6 linked regions of the Homo sapiens genome follow. The protein of the gene in region 1 interacts with the protein of each later gene in a biochemical or structural test. Each region holds a gene or a part of one and is shown in the gene's direction. Other genes may lie near its edges. The genes, in order: ELN, MMP12, FBLN1, FBN1, LOXL2 and LGALS3.

Region 1 (3,500 bases):
TTTCAACATCACCCATCTATCTATCCCTCCCTCCAACCATTCTTCCATGCATCCATGTATCCATTCATCCTTCCATCAATCTATTACTTTCTCCATCCCTCCCTCCATCCATTCCCATTCCTCCATGCATCCATCTATCCATCCATCCATTCATGTACTCATCTGCCCATCCATGCATCCATCCACTCATCCGTCCATTCATTCATCCATCCATCTCTCCCTCCATCCATTCATCCATCCATCCATCCATTCCTCCATGCATCCATCTATCCATCCATCCACTTATCTATCCATTCATCTACTTATTTACACATCCATGCATCCATCCATCCATCCACTCATCCATCCACTCATTCATCCATCCATCTCTCCCTCCATCCATTCATCCATCCATCTATCCATCCATCCATCCATCCATCCATCCATCCATTTCTCCATGGATCCATCTATCCATCCATCTGTCCACACATCCATCCATCCATTTATCCATCCACCCACTCATCCATCTATCCATTCATCCACCCATCCATCACTACCTCCCTCCATTCATCCATCCTCCATTCCTCCATGCAGCCATCTATCCATCCATCCATCCACTTATCCACCCATTCATCCATCCATCAATCCCTCCCTCCATCCATTCTTCCATCCATCAATCCCTCCCTCCATCCATTCTTCCATCCATCCATCCACGCATCCATCCATTCCTCCATGCATCCATCCATCTATGCACCCATCCATCCATCCCCTCATCCATCCATCCATTTATCCATCCATCACTCCCTCGCTCCATTCATCCATCCACCATCTATCCATCTATTCCCCCATATACCCATTCATCCATCCAACCATTCCTCCATGCATCCATCTATCCCTCCATCCATTCCTCTAGGCACCCATCCATCCATTTCTCCATGCATGCATCCATCCTTCCATCCATCCTTCCATCCATCCATCCACCATCTATTCCTCCATGCATCCATTCATCCATCCATCCATTCCTCCATGCATTCATCCTTCCATCCATCCATCCACCCATCAATTCTTCCCTCCATCCATTCTTCCCTCTATCCATCCACTCATCCATCCATTCTTCCCTCTATCCGTCCACTCATCCATCCATTCCTCCATGCATCCATTCCTCCATGCATCCATCTATCCATCCATCCATTCATCCATCCACTCATCCATCCATCCATTTACCCATCCATCCACTCAATCCATCCATCCATCCATCCATACATCAATCCATACATCAATCCACCCATCCATCACTCCCTCCATCGATTCTTCCATCCATCCATCTGCCCATTCTTCCATGCATCCCTCCATCCATTCCTCCATGCACCCACCCATCCATTTCTCCATGCATGCATCCATCCTTCCATCCATTCATCCATCCATCCATCCATCCATCTATTCCTCCATGCATCCATCCACCCATCCATCCATTTCTCCATGCATCCTTCCATCCATCCATCCATCCATCCATCCATCCATCCACTCACCCATCTATCCATCCATCCATCCATCTACCCATCAATTCTTCCTTCCATCCATTCTTCCCTCTATCCATCCACTCATTCATCCATTCTTCCCTCTATCCATCCACTCATCCATCCATTCCTCCATGCATCCATTCCTCCATGCATCCATCTATCCATCCATCCATTCATCCATCCACTCATCCATCCATCCATTTACCCATCCATCCACTCGTCCATCCATCCATCCATCCATCCATCCATCAATCCATCTATCCATCACTCCCTCCATTGATTCTTCCATCCATCCATCCATCCATCTGCCCATTCTTCCGTGCATCCCTCCATCCATTCCTCCATGCACCCATCCATCCATTTCTCCATGCATGCATCCATCCATCCATCCATTCCTCCATGCATCCATGCACCCATCCATCCATTCACCCATGCATTCATTCATTCATTCATTCATTCATTCATTCATTCTTTCCTCCATGCATTCATCCATGCCTCCTTCCTTCCCTCCCTCACTGCCTCCTCCCACCCATCCATATCAGAGATCAGGGACAAACAAGAGTTCTCTTAGAGAATATAGCCACTGTTGTGGGAGTCAAGAAACGGGAGGCATTTTTTTCTACCTGAGGAAAGTTAGAAAGGCTTCCCAGAGAAAGTGACATGTGATTTAGGCCTTAAAAATAAAGATGGAGCTTACCATGTGGTTAAAACAGGAAAGAGGAGGCCAAGCAGAGGGAATGGGTACCACGGTGGTTAGAAAGATAATTTTAGGTGGTGCATATATAAGCATTTAAAATATTTAATAGTTATGTATCAATTTAATGTGTACTATAAAAATGTTAACTCACTGCTCAGGTCAGTGAGTTCTTGGCTAGCATGGCTGCAGATGGAACGTGGTATTCCTGTGCCCGTGCAGTGGGTGGAGTGGGCATCTGTCCCCTGCCCCAGGTAGTGCCCACCTCAGGGTCAGACCACTAGGGCTGAAGTCCTCCTTCATCCTCAGCCCCAGGGAAGCCCTTTCCTTATCTCCCCACCAGCCCGAGAGAGCGAGAATGTGGGGAGAAGCCTGAAGCTGGGCCTCCCAGTGGAGGCCCCGCAGGCCCCCCTCCCAGCACCCGAGGCTCCTTGGCCCCAGCGGCTGGTGGGGACGGCTGCAATGTGGGAGCGGGAGAGCAGGGCTGTGAGGGGCTGCCAGAGCCAAGCAGCCAGGCGCTTGGATTACAAACTTGGCTGCATCTTCGGAACACAGGGAGAGGAAGTCTTGAACATTCCTGCAGGGGACCCTCTGGCCCAGGGAGCGGCCACTTGTGGTTTCTCAGTATGTGGCAGTGATTAGAATGGGATTTGTCTGAAAACATACAAGTCCCTTAATGAGTGTGTTGAAATGGACACTTTGGGGGAGAGTCAAGGAACAGTGGAGTGGGGTGGGGGCCTCCCCAGACAGGCCCATCTGGAGACACCCGGGCCCCATTCCTGGATAAGATCACACTGGTGAAAACGCCGGCGTCTAAGTGGCCATCCTGCCTGTCCTCAGGAGGGTCCTTGGGAAACTACATTGCACTGTCCCCATCTCAACAGGTGCTGGAGCAGCCGGAGTCCTCCCTGGTGTTGGAGGGGCTGGTGTTCCTGGCGTGCCTGGGGCAATTCCTGGAATTGGAGGCATCGCAGGTAACATCTGTCCCAGCAGGGGGCGGGTGTGTCCTTGAGATGGCCACAGGGCAAGGACCTCACCCTCTGTGGCTGTGTTTTCAGGCGTTGGGACTCCAGCTGCAGCTGCAGCTGCAGCAGCAGCCGCTAAGGCAGCCAAGTATGGTGAGTGCCTCCCGGGGTGGCAAGTCCACGGCTCGGGCCCCTGCATAGACCTCGGAGACCCTAGCCGCAAAGCCAGATGGACTTGGCCTTTGTTCCTTCCCAAATATGCATTGTTCATGCCTCCTTACCTTTGCCCCTTCTGATCACTCTACCTGAGATGCCATCTCTATTGTTTTGCCCTGATTAACT
Region 2 (3,500 bases), on another chromosome or scaffold:
TATTTAGAAGCAATGAAAACTGTTGAACGCAGCTGTGAGTTATTCTAGGAATTTTTACAACAGAATATATTTCATTTGTCTACTAGTACAGAGGTCCCTAACCCTAGGCAATTTTGTCCCCAAGGAGATATCTGACAATGTCTGGAGACATTTTTTGGTTGTCAAAACTAAAAAGGATTTGCTACTTGCATTTAGGGGTAAAACCTGAGATTTCTAAACAACTATAATGCACAGAACAGCCCAGACTACTGAACTGTAATGTCAGAAGTGCTGAGATTGAGAAACCCAACTCAAAAGGGTAAAGAAATAAGTAAAAGATTCTCAAATCTTTCTTTTTCACTGTGTCAGATATTGTGTTCTTGTCCAAGATGATAATGCATTTCACAGCTGTCTTTTGGTTGGTTTCTTCTTAGGCACAAACTTGTTCCTCACTGCTGTTCACGAGATTGGCCATTCCTTAGGTCTTGGCCATTCTAGTGATCCAAAGGCCGTAATGTTCCCCACCTACAAATATGTTGACATCAACACATTTCGCCTCTCTGCTGATGACATACGTGGCATTCAGTCCCTGTATGGTGAGTTGAATTCTTTATCATTTTGCCATATAAAGATACTCGCTTTTATGAATAGTCTAACAATATCTATATTTGGATAAAACGTTAATATCTGTCTTTTTTTAAGCCGCATAAGAACCCTGTGTGGCAGGTGACACAGGTATTATCTTCATTATACAGATGAGGACAAGAGACCTAGTATGTTAACGTCAGAGCCAGAGGCAGAACCAGAGGCCTCAAGTCTGGTGTTCTTTCTATCCAAGATACCATTGCCTTACTGATGAAGGCCCACACATTAAACAATCTATTATAACTGGAAAAGGAAAGTAAAGATAATCAGATTTTCTTCCTCCATGATATTGCAACCATGTGGAAAAAAAACCTTACTTTATACTTCCTGTGAATGTTATAGAAAGCTTAAAATGATTTTGATGCAATGTTCATTAAGAAAATTGAGTATTTAAAACATAACTGTTCCTCCTCTGAACTACAATGCAGATTTTGTTTACTAATGCTTCTCGAAATGTATTTTCAGGAGACCCAAAAGAGAACCAACGCTTGCCAAATCCTGACAATTCAGAACCAGCTCTCTGTGACCCCAATTTGAGTTTTGATGCTGTCACTACCGTGGGAAATAAGATCTTTTTCTTCAAAGACAGGTAGGATCATTTTCATATCTAACCAATATTAAAGTTTCTGCCTTTAAATTTTTTTTGTCAGAAAACAGTGGAAAATAATTGAAAATGAAGTAGATGAAACTTGTAAGCAGGAACTTGGACTCGATTCTGTAGGCAGTGAGGAGATCTTAAAGGTTTTGAAGCAGGAGACAGGTGTAATTACATTTGTGTTTTAACTAGAAAACTGGTGTGTAAAAAACGATTTGCAGTAGGAATCTGGGATGGGGATTTAGAAGATAAGAAACAGAAGCCAGACTATTTTAATCATAGATAAAAATGGTGAAGTCTGAAACCAAGACTGTAAAACAGTACCTATGCAAGAGACTTGATTTCCTGGTTATGGAGGAGAGAATTCCAGGATAACTTATGGTTTCTTTCTTAGAACACAGACTGAAGCAGATGTTGGTGGTAAGGAGGGGCAGTTGGGAAGACTAACATTTGTCAAGTAGGACAAATATTTCCCATTTTTGAGATTATAAGACTGATACACTTGAGGATAGTGACTTCCTTGAGGTTACAAAACTGGTGAGTGAATTGTAGGGTCGAACCAGAAGCTTAGATCCCTGGATTCCAAGCTCCAGGGTATTTCTGTATACCAGATTGCTTGTTAAAGTCATTGTTATTATCAAAGAGTTGATTGATATCCTTTTCTTGTGGATCCATGAACATCAGACATCCATGGAACAGAATGTGAAGACAATGGAAAGAAATATTGGGTCTTTTCACAGTTCCCTCCCATTCACATGCCATGGTTCTTGAGTCTACATTGTCTTTTAACATGTGTCAAATGTCTTTCATGTCAGGTTCTTCTGGCTGAAGGTTTCTGAGAGACCAAAGACCAGTGTTAATTTAATTTCTTCCTTATGGCCAACCTTGCCATCTGGCATTGAAGCTGCTTATGAAATTGAAGCCAGAAATCAAGTTTTTCTTTTTAAAGGTAATTCTAATCTTTAGTTTTGCCATTGAGTTTACTTCAAGGAAGAGAATAAATTGAGAAGAGACTACTACTTTTTAATAGATATAGACCAAGAAAGCACTCTTGATTTTATTAATAGTGGCTCGCTCTGAAGTGTAAACTAAAATAGCCTAAATACCTAAGTAATATATACAACTTCTGGGAAAAGTTTGTAAACTACAAAATAGTAATACTTGTGAAAAAAAACCATGGGAACCATAGAAAAGAGACTATGTTTAAGATCAATAAGCAATAAATATTATAACTGTTGGAAAGGAATTATGTTGTTTATAGTAAATCAATATTTTCTTATTACTCTTCCTGTATAATTCAAATTTACCCTATTTCTTTGTCTTCACAGATGACAAATACTGGTTAATTAGCAATTTAAGACCAGAGCCAAATTATCCCAAGAGCATACATTCTTTTGGTTTTCCTAACTTTGTGAAAAAAATTGATGCAGCTGTTTTTAACCCACGTTTTTATAGGACCTACTTCTTTGTAGATAACCAGTATTGGAGGTGAGTTTTAATGGTTGGTCATTCGACCCCTCAGATTGTGAAACAGATATGGAATGAGGCTTTCTAGAAGGCACATTTTCTGCGCAAATTCCCAAAGCTCCTTGACCTTCCAGGGAGAGAGATTAAGAGAATATAGGACTGAAATAGTTATTGTCAACTTAGTTCTTTGTGTTTTTGGTTTCTGATATATGAAATAGTAGATAATGTGTGTTTTTTTTTAAAAAAACACTCTAAATAAAATGTCATCTTATTAATCATAGTGGAAACACATTGGAAAATAGTGTCATAGATGTACAAGACCAAGTATTTAATCTACAGTCAGTTTCGAGGGTTATGGATTTCCAGATTCCTTTCTGTAATCACTGGATTCAAAAGACAAAATGAGACAACCATCCTCTAAATGACAGGAGGTCAGGAGGTCCTGCAAGATCTTCCTTAAAAGAAAGTCATATGGTCAAGTGAGGATAGGAGCTCATTTGAGTGTCTGTCTCTGTTGTCTCAATTGTCTACATTTTGAAGGAGGAGAGGATTCTGTATTCCTTCTTCTGAGTAAGCCAGTCATTTCCTAGATTGCTTGCCTGGTTGACATGAGACATAACATATATGTTAAGCTTACATTTACAACTGTTATTTATTCTTAAGCATTTAAAACACAATATCTAATTCCAATTGAATACCGGATGCTTATGACTTGAATTTGTCCACCAGCCCTTAGCTCTGTTTGAGAAACAAAACTTGATTTTAGCAAATAACACTTTCCAAAGAGCTCACAAATGGGTGTAGTTTGCTGTAG
Region 3 (3,500 bases), on another chromosome or scaffold:
GGCCTGCCTCTAACTTCGTGTTGGAGTTAGGCTTTCCCCACCCGCAGAGACAGGGAGAAGCACCCTGGCCTTCCGGATGACGACATTCCCCAGGCATGTCCCCAGCCCTTGAGAAAGACACTCCTTGGTTGCACATCTCAAAGGGACAGAGAAACCGTTTACATTTGCAAGTTTTTCTAAAGTAGATGCTTCTAAGGAACATGGAGGTCAGCGCCTGTAGTCAGGTTTGGGCTGGAACCAAGAGAAAATTCTTTTGGCAGCATTGATCTTTCTCAGACAGGCATGTCAAGGGGGCTGGGTCTACATCCTGGATACCTGGTCTTGGGCCAATGGCAGCCACGCTGAAGTTGGGTCAGGTCTCTTGGTATGTGGGGGTTGGACAGAGTTGTTCCTGCCAACAGTCTTGTGGTTCTCAGATAACACCAACCTCCTGGGCTGATGGGAAGGTCACATGAACTGCATGTCAGCCCAGGGCCTGGCACATACTAGGTGCTTGGCAGATGTCGTGTCTTGTATACGGATTAGGTTCTGAGCTGAGCAGACACTGAGAGCTTTGGATGGCCCTCCACAATCGTCCACATTGCCGATGACACCCTGTTTGGTGCCGTGCACTGGCTCACAGGACGGCTTCTGCAGCCTGACTCAAACATGGCAGGTCCTAACATTTTGCCATGAGAATTTTCCTTCCTGATGAGATGGTCGCAGGGGTTGGATATGCCACAGTGAGCTGTGGTGTGCATGATTCTCAAATCGGAGGACGGACGGTGTGAGGGGTCCTGGGCTTAGTTCACAAGAACGTGTATGGACAAGGAACAAGATTCACGAGTTGAGTCTCTCAGGCTTGTGTTCAAACCTGACTTCTGCCATTTCCATGGCCTTGAAGAAGTAACTCAGTCTTTCCTGGGCCATGGTGTCCTCATCTGTAAAACGGGCATAGTAGGACCAACCCCATAGGGGGTTGTGAGGATGAAACGAGATTAAGCATGTGAAGAGCTTATCACAGGGCCAAGCACAGGATGAAGAGCTGGCGGTGTGGAGGCTGCTGGCTTTATTATTATTTAGTAGAAGTAGTGGGATTCCTGGCTTGTGCTTCCTCTAGTCATTCATAAATTGCTGAAAAGTCGGCATTCATATCCACATTAGTGGACAATATTGTGGATATAGAACCAGAGCCTGGCCAACCTTGCTATGTGACCTTACTAACCATTTGTTAGGGTCCTGCCCCGGGTGTGTAGCAAGAACTCGGTCCTGCACTGGGGAGTGTCTCTAGCGGGGGATGAGAGACCACACTGGACAGGTGGAGGCCAGGCCTGGTGTGTGGGGGCCACAGAGATGAAACACGGGGTGGAAGGCTATTGGACGTTCTGTGACAGCCACATAGTATAGATTTAAGGCTTTTCCAGCCACAATCTCTGTTGCAACCGCTGAACTCTGCTGTGGTAGCAGAGAAGTGGCCAGAGGACCATGGTAAAAGAATGAGTGTGGCAGGGCACAGTGGCTCACACCTGTAATCCCAGCACTTTGGGAGGCTGAGGCAGGTGGATTACTTGAGGTCAGGAGTTCGAGACCAGTATGGCCAACATCGTGAAACCCTGTGTCTACTAAAAATACAAAAATTAGCCGGGCATGGTGGTGCACACCTGTAATCCCCCAGCTACTCAGGAGGCTGAGGCAGGAGAACTGCTTGAATTCATGTCCACATTTAGTGGACAATAGCCTCCCGGAGGTGGAGATTGCAGTGAGCTGAGATTGAGCTACTTGTACTCCAGCCTGGGCGACAGACAAAGACTTTGTCTCAAAAAAAAAAAGAGTGAATGTGGCTGTATTCTTTATTTTATTGTTATTATTATTTTGAGACGGAGTCTCGCTCTGTCGCCCAGGCTGGAGTGCAGTGGTGTGATCTTGGCTCACTGCAACCTCTGCCTCCTTGTTCAAGCAATTCTCCTGCTTCAGCCTCCCGAGAAGTTGTGACTACAGGTGCGTGCCACCATGCCTGGCTAATTCTTGTATTTTTAGTAGAGATGGGTTTCATCATGCTGGCCAGGCTGGTCTCGAACCCCTGACCTCGTGATCCGCCCACCTCGGCCTCCCGAAGTGCTGGAATTACAGGCATGAGCCACCATGCCTTGCCGGGCTGTGTTCTAATAAAACTTTATTTATAAAAACAAGTGTTGGGACAAATTTGGCCCATAGACTATGATTTGCTGACCTCTGCTTTAGGTAAAGGGGACAGTTGAGCAGTAGTTCAGAGTTGCTGAGTGGCCCAGTGAGTTCTGTGCATTGGAGTATGAGGAGTACTGGCGTATGGGCTGGGTGGCCGAGGACTTCCTTGTGTGCCGTCATCTGTTTAGGATGCCATCTTGGAGGTGAAGTGGAGAGCACAGGATCAGATTTCCATTTGAGAACTAGAATGGACTCTGGCAGCCAGGTCGGGGCAGACTTCCAGGGGCCAAGGCTGGAGGCGATCGCTGCCATCCTGGCAGGAGAAGTTGTGGTCGAAGCAGGCAGGAGCAGGGATGGAGGGTCCGGAGCCACCAGCGATGACGCCTCTCCCTCGGCCACACCCCCCGGGACCTCTGTCTCTCCGAGTGTGTTAACCTGAGGGAGGTGGAGAGGAGATTTTCTGTTCACTGACCCTGAGGGCTACTGTGGAGGCAGGGACGTATGATGCTCTGAGCGGTGACCCTCGTTTTGTATTTCAGACATCAATGAGTGCAGCAGCAGCCCCTGTAGCCAGGAGTGTGCCAACGTCTACGGCTCCTACCAGTGTTACTGCCGGCGAGGCTACCAGCTCAGCGATGTGGATGGAGTCACCTGTGAAGGTGCGGACGCCCCTGCCTGCTGAGGGGGAAAGCACCCCCTGGTCTTGCCATGACACAGCAGCACGGCCTCTGACTTTCAAAATCCACAGGGAAGAGCCTGCTGGGATTTCTTCACCTGACAAACCTTCCATGTCCACCCTTGGAGGCAAGCGGGTGGTTTGCTGTTTTCCCTCCAACTGAGGTTTTTTTTTTTTTTTTTTTTTTTTTTTGAGACACGGTCTTGCTCTGTTGCCCAGGCTGGAGTGATATGGTGCAATCACTGCTCACTGCAGCCTCAGCTTCCCAGGCTCAAGTGATCCTCCCACCTCAGCCTCCCAAGTAGTTGGGACCATAGGTGTATACCACCATGCCTGGCTAATTTTTTATTTTTAAAAAATTAGAGACGGGGCCTTGCTGTGTTGCCCAGGCTGGTCTCGAACTCCGTGGCTCAAGTGATCCTCTTGCTTCAGCCTCCCAAATTGCTGGGATTACAGGCATGAGCCACCGTGCCTGGCCCCCAACTGAAATTCTAATATACTTTTCCCATCCTTAAGCGTGAGGGTGGGAAGGCAGCAAACCACTCCTGACTTGTTCTTTAATAAATGTGCACGGCGGTAATTACAACATGCACTGGGACCTTGGGCCGCATATCTCAGGTCTTGGTGGTGGTGCATGGCTGAGAGGTAAGGAGGGGGCTCA
Region 4 (3,897 bases), on another chromosome or scaffold:
TCAGTAGTTCTGGGGTGATGCCGAGAATTTGCATTTCTAACAGATTCCCAGGTGATGCTGATGCAGCTTGTTCAGGGACTACATTTTGAGACCTCCAGATACAAATGATTTCAACCTGCCTTTCTTCCTGACATCAGTTAATATTTTCAAATATTACAAATATGTGCCAATTTAATACACTTGTGGTCTAAACAAAATGCTTTCAATATTGTGTATGCAGCATAAGGCAGAAAATTGTATTAGTGTGAAATTTGAGTCATTTTTTCTTTAATATGAGAGCTAAGTGGCATATGTACATTGTATTTAACATATTGCCATGTGTCTTTCCAGGATCAGTCTGAGACAGAAGCCAATGTGAGTCTTGCAAGTTGGGATGTTGAGAAGACAGCCATCTTTGCTTTCAATATTTCCCACGTCAGTAACAAGGTTCGAATCCTAGAACTCCTTCCAGCTCTTACAACTCTGACGAATCACAACAGATACTTGATCGAATCTGGAAATGAAGATGGCTTCTTTAAAATCAACCAAAAGGAAGGGATCAGCTACCTCCACTTCACAAAGAAGAAGCCAGTGGCTGGAACCTATTCATTACAAATCAGTAGTACTCCACTTTATAAAAAGAAAGAACTTAACCAACTAGAAGACAAATATGACAAAGACTACCTCAGTGGTGAACTGGGTGATAATCTGAAGATGAAAATCCAGGTTTTGCTTCATTAATTCACCATCCAGAGACCAAATAATTAAAAGAAAAACAAATATAGATAGGTAGAACTATATTTTCCCCCAATCAGAATCATCATATCATAGGTACAATCTTTCACCAAGTAAATTTGTATAAATAAGCACTATTCTTTGTATTACCAAAGCAAGGTACAGGTGACTACCCTAGTTCAAAACAACCACTTTCTCAGGCTTCTCATGTGTGTAGCTAAGCTACCTTGTCATATGTGTTGATTCTTGAAAACTGGGACGTGTATTTCCATTGGGGGTTGGCCATTTATGCTGACATGCCATCCTTCCAGCAAACGTACGGGAATGTGCTTTCAATTGATGGACTACTCTATTTTTTGCAAATTTGTAAACTTTGCTTCTCCAAATACAAGTACTAGGTTGTCCATTTATGGTACCTATTTGGTGCTAGTAAATTTTCAAACTAGATTTATAAATGCACTGTAATATGTACACAACTTAGAAACCAAATTACAAGTATTCAGTTCCAATACTTCATTAATTTCAATCAACCAAAGTTAGTTCAGTAGCTTATCTCAGTTATGAGTATAATACATTACATGTAAATTAAGTGTGTGTATACTGTAATCGTGCTATTTTTTATCATTGAAACATTTATAAACTAGAATAATAATGCCCTTAATGTGAGGGTTTGTAATGGTGCTTATTAAGACCAAAGACTTGTTAAATGTATACACCAAGTGGTAATGAAATTTCGGTGACTGGCCCACACGTGCATAGAGGTCTGGGAGGACCAGGAAACAGCCTCAGTGGCCAGAGGATCACCAGTGCATCCTTCATCACAGCATGTGCAATATGCCAAGATTACCCTCGGTCATTCCTGTCAACAAGGGGTCAATGTCATAAATGTCACAATAAAACAATCTCTTCTTTTTTTTAGTTTACCCCTTGGCTTTGTGTTCTTGCATGGATTTGGGGTTGGAGGGGCCATTCCGGAGGCTAAATAAAGTCTCCTGGATTTAAATTATCCTGGGTCTCTTACTTATGGCTTATGAAAGTACCAAATGTATAACCACTAGAAGAAAATTTAACATATGAGTCGATCCCTTGTTTTATCCATTGAAAGTAGCAGAGTCTGGTGTCATTAACCTGACTTGCTTGTGAGAAATTTAGATTGTAGAGTCATTTCTGAAACATGACCTAATTCATCTTGTGACTTTTAAATAGTCTTAAATACCAAGTTCAGTCATTGTCTTAGAGCACATGAATTTCATTATAATAGATTTATCATGCCCCCCTCTCAAATATACACAGTTTTGGCAAGCCTTAGGTGTTCTGTTCCATTTTTTTTTCCCCTAAACATCTTTCGTTAGTCAATGCTCATCTAATTACAAAGGGATAATCCCAGACTGTATCCAATTGCTGTAACTTTTGGTTTCTTAATGTCATAATTTTTAAAGTCTGTTTTATTTTAAGTGCAATATTGAGTATTTAGCTGTTAGGCTCAATCCGTCGATATGAAATAATTTTTTAAATCCCTAAGGGCAGGAAAGCATTTCGTGGTAGTGAAAATAAGAGGAAATAAGATGGCATGAAGGTGGTGGGCGGAGAAACTAGGTAGGACACAGGAAAGTGCTCTCAAAAATCTTTGAAGAGCTCAGCTGAAAAAAATGGAGTAGATTTGGCTCATACTATTCCGGAAGGCAAAACCAGGGTCAGCTGATGTCAGCCCCAGTTTAATACACACGGTCCCAATTATAGAGCTACTCACTGAAAGAATGGGTTTCCTTGCATTGTGGTGAGCTCCCTGTCACAAGATAGAAGAGTTTCAGTCTAGGCTTAATGGCAACCATTGGACAAAGATGCTTTCTTCCACCTAACAGGCCATTAACATCTTAAAGGTATTTTTGTATCTCTAATTTTGTTTATAATAGGTGCTCAACAGAATGAGCTGAATGGCTGTTACAAAGGGGGTTTGTACCTTGGGTAAGAGATTAAAATATAACTCAAAATTTCCTTCTAACGCTGCACCTATGGAACCATGTGATAGAGGTGTATTAAAATTGTTATCGAAGAATATATAGCATATGGTAAACAACAGTTTGCATATGGAAAATGTCTTTGATAATTTAACCAGAACTGCATTATATTCAATAACGGATTTTCTTTATAACAAACAACAGGGGAAAATGGAGTTGGCACACAGTGGATCACTTTGATATTTTTAATAGTCCAAGTCTGGATTTTATTTATTCCTGAGCCAACAATTTTGAACAGCATATTTTCCATGTTTCTGACTGTAACAAAACATTTTCCTCATTGTTCCATTGTAAATATTCCTCTTGTTGGAACTCTTTTTAATCCTGAGATTTAAACCTGTACCTTTCAATTGTCTGTGACCTTTCAATTTCACTTTCAATAGTTGAAGAACTTGGCTTTGTAAATCTCTCAGAAGCTTGAAAATATCTTGTCTCTACCCCCTCAGCCCATTTCATTTGCCAATAATTATTTTGTAAGTAGGGTTGAAATGAACTCAGCTGGCCTTGTGAAATGTTTAAACTTGCACAAACAACTACATTTTTGTTCAACAAATAGCAGTTTACTCAGCCAAAATCACTTTGGATATTGCCATTACAAATACTGTTAAACTTCAGAAATCATGTCTGTAAATTAGATGAGCCAAAATAAAGGACAATTGGGTTGATGCTGCATTAGTATCCTTAAAAGTTATATACCCATAAATGTTAGGGATTTTAAAATTACCATCAACTTGGTCCACAGAATATATTTTATTCTGGTTTTAACTGTAGTTCTTAGAGAACTGTATTAGAAATGTAATTATTAGGAATGTAATTATTAAATGATTTAAGGACATTGTTTTTAAAGTTAGAAGATCATTACTGGCAGAAATATTAGTTTCACATTTATAGCTGAAGACAGATATTTACCCCTTGCCAATTTAAAATAACACTTTGTAAAAAAGAGAGAAGAAAAAAAAAACAATTTACTTCATTATGCTTTTTTTGAAACCCAGTATGAGCCTGACATTACGTATGAGTTAGGAAAGGATGATCTATATTATTCTGAGTGTTAGGGTTGGAGAGATAGAAAAGGGCTGTACACTTGACTTTGCAAATTTCCATGTATATTCATGACTGGTTTTATTCACAGGATTGGATCTCAGTTAAAGACATTCTCACAAAT
Region 5 (3,362 bases), on another chromosome or scaffold:
CCTGCTGTGGGTCGCAGCCCTTCCAAATGTGGCAGGACCCTCGAGGGAAGGCCTGTCATCTGTGTCCTCTGCCCCTCTGTTCACCACTGTTGTCTCTTCTCCCTCTCCCTCCCTTTCTCTTTTCTCCTCGGGTCCTCACCGTAAACCTCCCCTTTTCTGTTCCCTCACAGACACTCTCCCAGAATATGTCCTTCCTATTCCTGCTGTAGCTGGGGGGATGCGGATACAGGGGTGGGTGGAAGGATGGGGAGAGGGTGCAACTTCTCCAGCAGCCCCAGAGCCAGGCCCTCGGCCAGCAGAGCAGACAGGGACATGGATCCCCAAGTCCCACCTGTCACTTTACAGAGAGAGGAAGGGACATGTCCACAGTCACACGCCTGTGACGAGTGTCCCATCTCCAACGCCCAGGCAGCCCTCTTCCAGGTTCCCACACCGCCAGGTCCTCCCTGCACCCTTCTGCTTCTCTTCAGCATCTTCTTTTTGGGGCCTCCCCAGACCCCAACTTCTGCCTTCCCCAGAACTCCCAGGAGTGGGTGACCCCCTTCCGAAGGCCCACCCTGGGTAGAGGGGTGTGTGTTACACGGATATGGACAGAGGGCAGGGTTTCCCTCTTCCAGGCCATGCTTCCTCTGCTCCCTGACTCATCTCTTCCCCTCCCCAAGGACTTTGTTGAGACCCACAGACCCCCGTCTTGGGTCCCGGCACCTGCCACGCTCCCCTTCCCTGAGGTGCTGGTCTCTCAGAGCCCCAGGCCTGGGTGGAGGTGGCCGCAGAGGGAACAAGCAGCCTCCTCTGCCCTGCTTCTCCCTAGGTTGTTATTAACCCCAACTTCGAGGTTGCAGAATCCGATTACTCCAACAACATCATGAAATGCAGGAGCCGCTATGACGGCCACCGCATCTGGATGTACAACTGCCACATAGGTAAGGCCAGGCCGCCCCCACTCCAGGAAGCAGGCGGGAGCTGCCCTACTTTCTCAAGGACCCAGAGGCAGCTTCCTAATTTGGGTAAAGAGCTCGGGGAATGCAGCCAGCATCACATTTCCACATTCAGGACAGAAGCCACAGACACACAGGCCTGGATGGAGACTGAGTTTTTACAGCCAGCTCCGGCCACGGATAGAGGATGGTACAGGACCAGGCCAGCCCAGTGCAGACCCCAAGGCTTTTTAAGGGTTGGAGCTGAGGCCACTGGCTCATTATGTATGTGACCTCAAAAATGTGGGCATCAGCAATCTGTGGGCTCTGCCTATCAGGTTTTTCTGTCGAGAGCTGGAAGCTAGCAAACTACTGTTATTTCTAGTCTCCAATAAAGACACTTTTTTCCTTGGATGATAGGACTTGGGGAACAAAAGGGAAGGCAGAGCTTTTTCCTCTGCAGGAAAAGTCATGGGCCTCACTCTTGGCAAAAGGTTAAAATTAAAGGCGCTATATTTATTCACTCGTTCACTCAACTTTGACAGAGCACCTGCTATGTGCCCAGCCCTAGAGATGGCCAGTGCCTGGCACCTGTCCTTTTGAGGAGGGCACACACAGGTGGCCCCAGCAGCCCCTGAGGCCCACTCCCCTGGCTCAGGGTCAGGCAAGGCCCGAGCATCTCATTTGTCCACTCTCTCTACCCGATTCTCGCTCTTCAGGTGGTTCCTTCAGCGAAGAGACGGAAAAAAAGTTTGAGCACTTCAGCGGGCTCTTAAACAACCAGCTGTCCCCGCAGTAAAGAAGCCTGCGTGGTCAACTCCTGTCTTCAGGCCACACCACATCTTCCATGGGACTTCCCCCCAACAACTGAGTCTGAACGAATGCCACGTGCCCTCACCCAGCCCGGCCCCCACCCTGTCCAGACCCCTACAGCTGTGTCTAAGCTCAGGAGGAAAGGGACCCTCCCATCATTCATGGGGGGCTGCTACCTGACCCTTGGGGCCTGAGAAGGCCTTGCGGGGGTGGGGTTTGTCCACAGAGCTGCTGGAGCAGCACCAAGAGCCAGTCTTGACCGGGATGAGGCCCACAGACAGGTTGTCATCAGCTTGTCCCATTCAAGCCACCGAGCTCACCACAGACACAGTGGAGCCGCGCTCTTCTCCAGTGACACGTGGACAAATGCGGGCTCATCAGCCCCCCCAGAGAGGGTCAGGCCGAACCCCATTTCTCCTCCTCTTAGGTCATTTTCAGCAAACTTGAATATCTAGACCTCTCTTCCAATGAAACCCTCCAGTCTATTATAGTCACATAGATAATGGTGCCACGTGTTTTCTGATTTGGTGAGCTCAGACTTGGTGCTTCCCTATCCACAGCCCCCACCCCTTGTTTTTCAAGATACTATTATTATATTTTCACAGACTTTTGAAGCACAAATTTATTGGCATTTAATATTGGACATCTGGGCCCTTGGAAGTACAAATCTAAGGAAAAACCAACCCACTGTGTAAGTGACTCATCTTCCTGTTGTTCCAATTCTGTGGGTTTTTGATTCAACGGTGCTATAACCAGGGTCCTGGGTGACAGGGCGCTCACTGAGCACCATGTGTCATCACAGACACTTACACATACTTGAAACTTGGAATAAAAGAAAGATTTATGAAACGTGTCTGTGTTTCCTTTGACCCACAGCACCTGGGCCCTGAGCAGCAGGCTTCCTATGTTCAGTGGCCAGAAGCAGAGCTTCAGGTACATTCGTGGTTTTCTCCGGTGGACATGGGTCCTCAGATCCCCTCCAGCCCAGTGTGGCCACCAGGGCACCTCCTTCAATAGACTCCAAAAGGGGCAGCTCCTACCATCTGGGAGAAGCAATCTAAGGAGATCACAAAAAGTAACGGAACAGGAGTCATAATCTTTCTTGAACTCCTGTGGTTTTTACTGAAACTTGTCAGAAGGCATAGGAGTTGTGCGAGGGCTGGATGGGAAGTCTAGATTTAAACAACAGCCACCAGGCAGCTTATCAAAGCAAGAGGGCATCCGTTCACAGGACAGGGGCTCCCAGCAATTCCCAGTGGCAGTGGGGGGGTGGCTGGCCCATGCGACTCACCCAGACACAGGGGACTTCCCCTTGTGTCAACAGCATGCTAGGGCCCAGCAAACTAGAGGGTAGGTAGGACCACCTTGGCACCAACTCCACTCAAACCACAATTGAATGAGGGCGTCGGCACGCATTCAGATCTCACCTCTTGCCTTTGTTTACATTTATTTTGCAGGAACTGGCACTGACTGACAGGTAAGACCAGGACCAGCCCAGGGGTCCCAGAACTGTCCCACAGCACAGGCCAGAAGGCTGGATACCTGAACTGCCAAAGGAGTGTGGGCAGGTGCTACACAGCAGGTGCAACCCAGCTCCCAAAATTGGGCAGGCTGTGCACAGAGGCCCTGCAG
Region 6 (3,500 bases), on another chromosome or scaffold:
ACAGGGTTTTGCCATATTGCCCAGGCTAGTCTTGAACTCTTGGGCTCAAGCGATTTGCCCACCTTGGCCTCCCAGTGTGCTGGGATTACAGGCATGAGCCACCACACCCAGCCAATATCTTGCATTTGAATCAAGTAGTGGACATTTATTGGATCCCTTGGGGCCGATGCCATTTCTAAAAGTGATTGAGTAAATATCACAGGTGGGCAAATCAAAGAGAAGGATATTCTGGTTGTTTCAAGGTCCAGGTAATTCAGGCCATGGCACAGGTGATCCTGAGCTTAGGAAGAACTCACCCATGCCTCAGGGGCCCAGCTGCCCTCCTCCCCTCACTGCTGGAGCACCTACAACAGCTGTGAAGCATCTTGTGCTTTTGGAGCCTTGACATGGGAAGGAACAGGAGAAAGCAGGACTGATGTCTCCAGACCACCCCTTAGGCAAACCCTCTTTGGTAGCATCTTAGACCCAAATATTTTTTTCCTTCACGTCACGTTGCCTGAATTTTTTCACCTTAGTTTGTTGTACTGCCAAATATTTTATTTGGAATAACAAGTACCTTTGAAAAAAAAAAAGCACATACAAACTTCAGCTCCCCTTTGAGGCTTAGCTCCAACAGCACCTTTCCTTTCCTTCTTAGAAGTAAGCTTTCTGGGTTTGAATTCCTACAGCACACATTCTGACTCATAGCATCTGTGACTTGTTATTTCACATTTCCATGGATGCATCTCATCTGCCTTGCTGCACTGTAGGCCCTTCGGCTTTTATTTTTTTTTAATTCTTAATCTTTATGGGTACATAGCAGGTATATATATTTATGGCATACGTTAGATGTTTTGACACAGGTATGCAATGCCTAATAATCACATCATGGAAAATGGGGTATCCCTCTTCTCATTTATTTGTGTTACAAACAATCCAGTTATACTTTTAGTTATTTTCAAACGTACAATGAAATTATTGACTATAGTCACCCTGCTGTGCTGTCAAATACCCGGCCTTATTCATTCATTATAACTATTTTTGTCACCCATTAACTATCCCCACCTCCCTCCCACCCTCCCTCACTACCTTTCCCAGCCTCTGGTAACCATCCTTCTATTCTATATCTCTGTGGGCTCAATTGTTTTGAGTTTTAGATCCTGTGGCCCCTTTGACCATGCAGATCATGGCCTATTCATCTTCACACCTAGATAGGAGCCTGCGCAGTGCCTGGCCAGGAGCAGGCATAAGTGTGTGCAAATAGAGGAATAAATAGCAGGGCAGCAACTATGTCTGGAGGTCATTGTCTTTCCTGTCTCAGTAGTAATCAATCACTGCTTATCTTCAAAAACCCAGAGTAGGGGATGGGGCAGTTAGTGGGGACAGAGGGCAGATGGGTAAGATTCAGAGCACAGGCTAGTGTGACGGAAGTTTAAACTTGTGAGTTAAATAGGGTTTGGCAATCTAGCTGGATAGCATCCCTGCCCCTTGAAGAGATGTTTTTGTGGCGCCACACTACTGACTTAGGCATAATGCCTAGAGATGGATTAGAACTGCACAATGAACTAGTGGTGAGGTTCAGTTTAATGGAAATTGGTGAAAGCTTTTAGGATAAAATGATAATCTTTGTTTCTTTCAGGAAAATGGCAGACAATTTTTCGGTAAGTGTTTTATGCCTGTTTCTTCCCCTTGATCAGCTCCACATGGTTGAGGGTTGGGGGTTTTGTTTTTACCATGACTTTCCCTTTTCACTCTCCCACTGCGTGGCTTCCCCTGGACTCATTTGTCCAATGAGGGCTTGCAAGCTGGAGCCTTGTTTTTCCAGCAGCAGATTTGGGAAGAAAGCCAGGCAGAGCGAGGCCTGGGACTCACTCACAGTAACCCTTTCACCAAAAGGCCCAGGGCGGAAGGGAGTGGACTCTGCCGGCAGGAGCTGAGAAATCCTCTGAGTAGCGGGAAGTGCGGTACAGTCTGGGCATTCTGATGTTTGTGATTGTTTTTCTCACGGTGATGAAAAAGTATGTGCTATAAGTAGAGGAGCGCTAACTCCTGACTTGAGCTAATTATGAAAATGCAGCCCTCCCTGATCTGAGACGTTGGGAGGCAAGAATAAAGTGAAAAAGTATATGTAATCCCAACATCTAATTTTAGTCTTAGAAACTCAAACTATTAATAAGTGGAAAAAGTTTAATGATATGCATGTAATGCCTTTGCCATATTCCTCTCCTTCTTAGATCACATATTCCTATTTTCCTGAAAATTCTGCTTTTGAGAATGCTTTCTGTCCCGTAATTGTGTATGTCTTTCTTTCCAGCTCCATGATGCGTTATCTGGGTCTGGAAACCCAAACCCTCAAGGATGGCCTGGCGCATGGGGGAACCAGCCTGCTGGGGCAGGGGGCTACCCAGGGGCTTCCTATCCTGGGGCCTACCCCGGGCAGGCACCCCCAGGGGCTTATCCTGGACAGGCACCTCCAGGCGCCTACCCTGGAGCACCTGGAGCTTATCCCGGAGCACCTGCACCTGGAGTCTACCCAGGGCCACCCAGCGGCCCTGGGGCCTACCCATCTTCTGGACAGCCAAGTGCCACCGGAGCCTACCCTGCCACTGGCCCCTATGGCGCCCCTGCTGGGCCACTGGTGAGATGGCATTCCTTCTTTCATGTACTTGACATGCAGAGGGCTTCAGGGAGACCCTGAGCTTTAAAGCTGCTGCTTAGAGCCACTTCTCAAGGGCCAGCCATGGGTGTATGTTGGTAGAGTCAAAAAATTAAGTGTTCATATTGAGCTTATTGTGTGTGGTTAGTATAAACAGAAGGTAATGAGTATTTTGAAGGCACTGATAAAACTGCTTATGAATATAAATCAAGATTGTAGTAATGGAGAACATTTTGGTTATTATTAACACTTACGGAGTACATGTCAATAGTATGCATCTACATGGATAATCTCATTTAACCCCATTACCACGCTATAAGATACTGTTAATAACCCCATTTCACACATGGGGAAATGGGGCAATAGAGAAGTGATATAATTTGTCCAGGGTCATTGAGCAAACATGTAGAGGAACCAGGGTAATCTGGTTTTGAAAAACCTTCTAAAGATAATTTTGTGATCTAAGGGTTGAATTTTCACGCAAATTAAAATATGTCATAGCAAGTGAATTCTAAGTGTAAAACATAACTCCATGGGGGATCCAGATACATCTCAGCCACAGGATCCTTCCTTTCCAGATTTATAATCTAGTTGGATGATAAAACATATAATAAATATGAGGAAAGAGCTAAGTACCAGTATGGGATTAGACCATTTCAGGACTATGCAGAAGACAGCACAAGGTAGCATTGTCTCCTTTTAGGTCAGTTTAGAGTAGAAAGACTTGGGGGAGTGGGTGGCATTGAGAGGGCCTATACCAGAGATGGTTAGTCAGTTGCAGAGAGAGGGAGACATGAAGGCTGTGGAAAGGAACAGGCAGATGTAAGAGAGATTACAGAGGAAGAACCCCCAGAATCTACTGATT

What was found.
Region 2: of the proteins of ELN (region 1) and MMP12, one has a biochemical effect on the other in vitro, tested with the Homo sapiens proteins (one study listed by IntAct).
Region 3: the proteins of ELN (region 1) and FBLN1 form a complex in vitro, tested with the Homo sapiens proteins (one study listed by BioGRID).
Region 4: the proteins of ELN (region 1) and FBN1 form a complex in vitro, tested with the Homo sapiens proteins (one study listed by BioGRID).
Region 5: the proteins of ELN (region 1) and LOXL2 interact in a biophysical measurement, tested with the Homo sapiens proteins (one study listed by IntAct).
Region 6: the proteins of ELN (region 1) and LGALS3 form a complex in vitro, tested with the Homo sapiens proteins (one study listed by BioGRID).

What each region holds. Positions count from the first base shown.
Region 1 is NC_000007.14:74,048,673-74,052,172, forward strand, and holds part of ELN (elastin isoform a precursor), read left to right. Parts: intron 1-3,077; coding exon 3,078-3,167; intron 3,168-3,251; coding exon 3,252-3,311; intron 3,312-3,500. UniProt on the Homo sapiens protein: Major structural protein of tissues such as aorta and nuchal ligament, which must expand rapidly and recover completely.
Region 2 is NC_000011.10:102,864,983-102,868,482, reverse strand, and holds part of MMP12 (macrophage metalloelastase preproprotein), read left to right. Parts: intron 1-413; coding exon 414-575; intron 576-1,089; coding exon 1,090-1,213; intron 1,214-2,034; coding exon 2,035-2,168; exon of another isoform or gene 2,169-2,547; coding exon 2,548-2,707; exon of another isoform or gene 2,708-3,285; intron 3,286-3,500. UniProt on the Homo sapiens protein: May be involved in tissue injury and remodeling. Has significant elastolytic activity. Can accept large and small amino acids at the P1' site, but has a preference for leucine.
Region 3 is NC_000022.11:45,544,383-45,547,882, forward strand, and holds part of FBLN1 (fibulin-1 isoform D precursor), read left to right. Parts: intron 1-2,702; coding exon 2,703-2,822; intron 2,823-3,500. UniProt on the Homo sapiens protein: Incorporated into fibronectin-containing matrix fibers. May play a role in cell adhesion and migration along protein fibers within the extracellular matrix (ECM).
Region 4 is NC_000015.10:48,407,813-48,411,709, reverse strand, and holds the end of FBN1 (fibrillin-1 isoform a preproprotein), read left to right. Parts: intron 1-330; coding exon 331-720; 3' UTR 721-3,397; downstream 3,398-3,897.
Region 5 is NC_000008.11:23,296,397-23,299,758, reverse strand, and holds the end of LOXL2 (lysyl oxidase homolog 2 precursor), read left to right. Parts: intron 1-811; coding exon 812-923; intron 924-1,636; coding exon 1,637-1,716; 3' UTR 1,717-2,862; downstream 2,863-3,362. UniProt on the Homo sapiens protein: Mediates the post-translational oxidative deamination of lysine residues on target proteins leading to the formation of deaminated lysine (allysine).
Region 6 is NC_000014.9:55,135,752-55,139,251, forward strand, and holds part of LGALS3 (galectin-3), read left to right. Parts: intron 1-1,231; exon of another isoform or gene 1,232-1,618; coding exon of another isoform or gene 1,619-1,622; coding exon 1,623-1,640; exon of another isoform or gene 1,641-2,293; coding exon 2,294-2,617; intron 2,618-3,500. UniProt on the Homo sapiens protein: Galactose-specific lectin which binds IgE. May mediate with the alpha-3, beta-1 integrin the stimulation by CSPG4 of endothelial cells migration.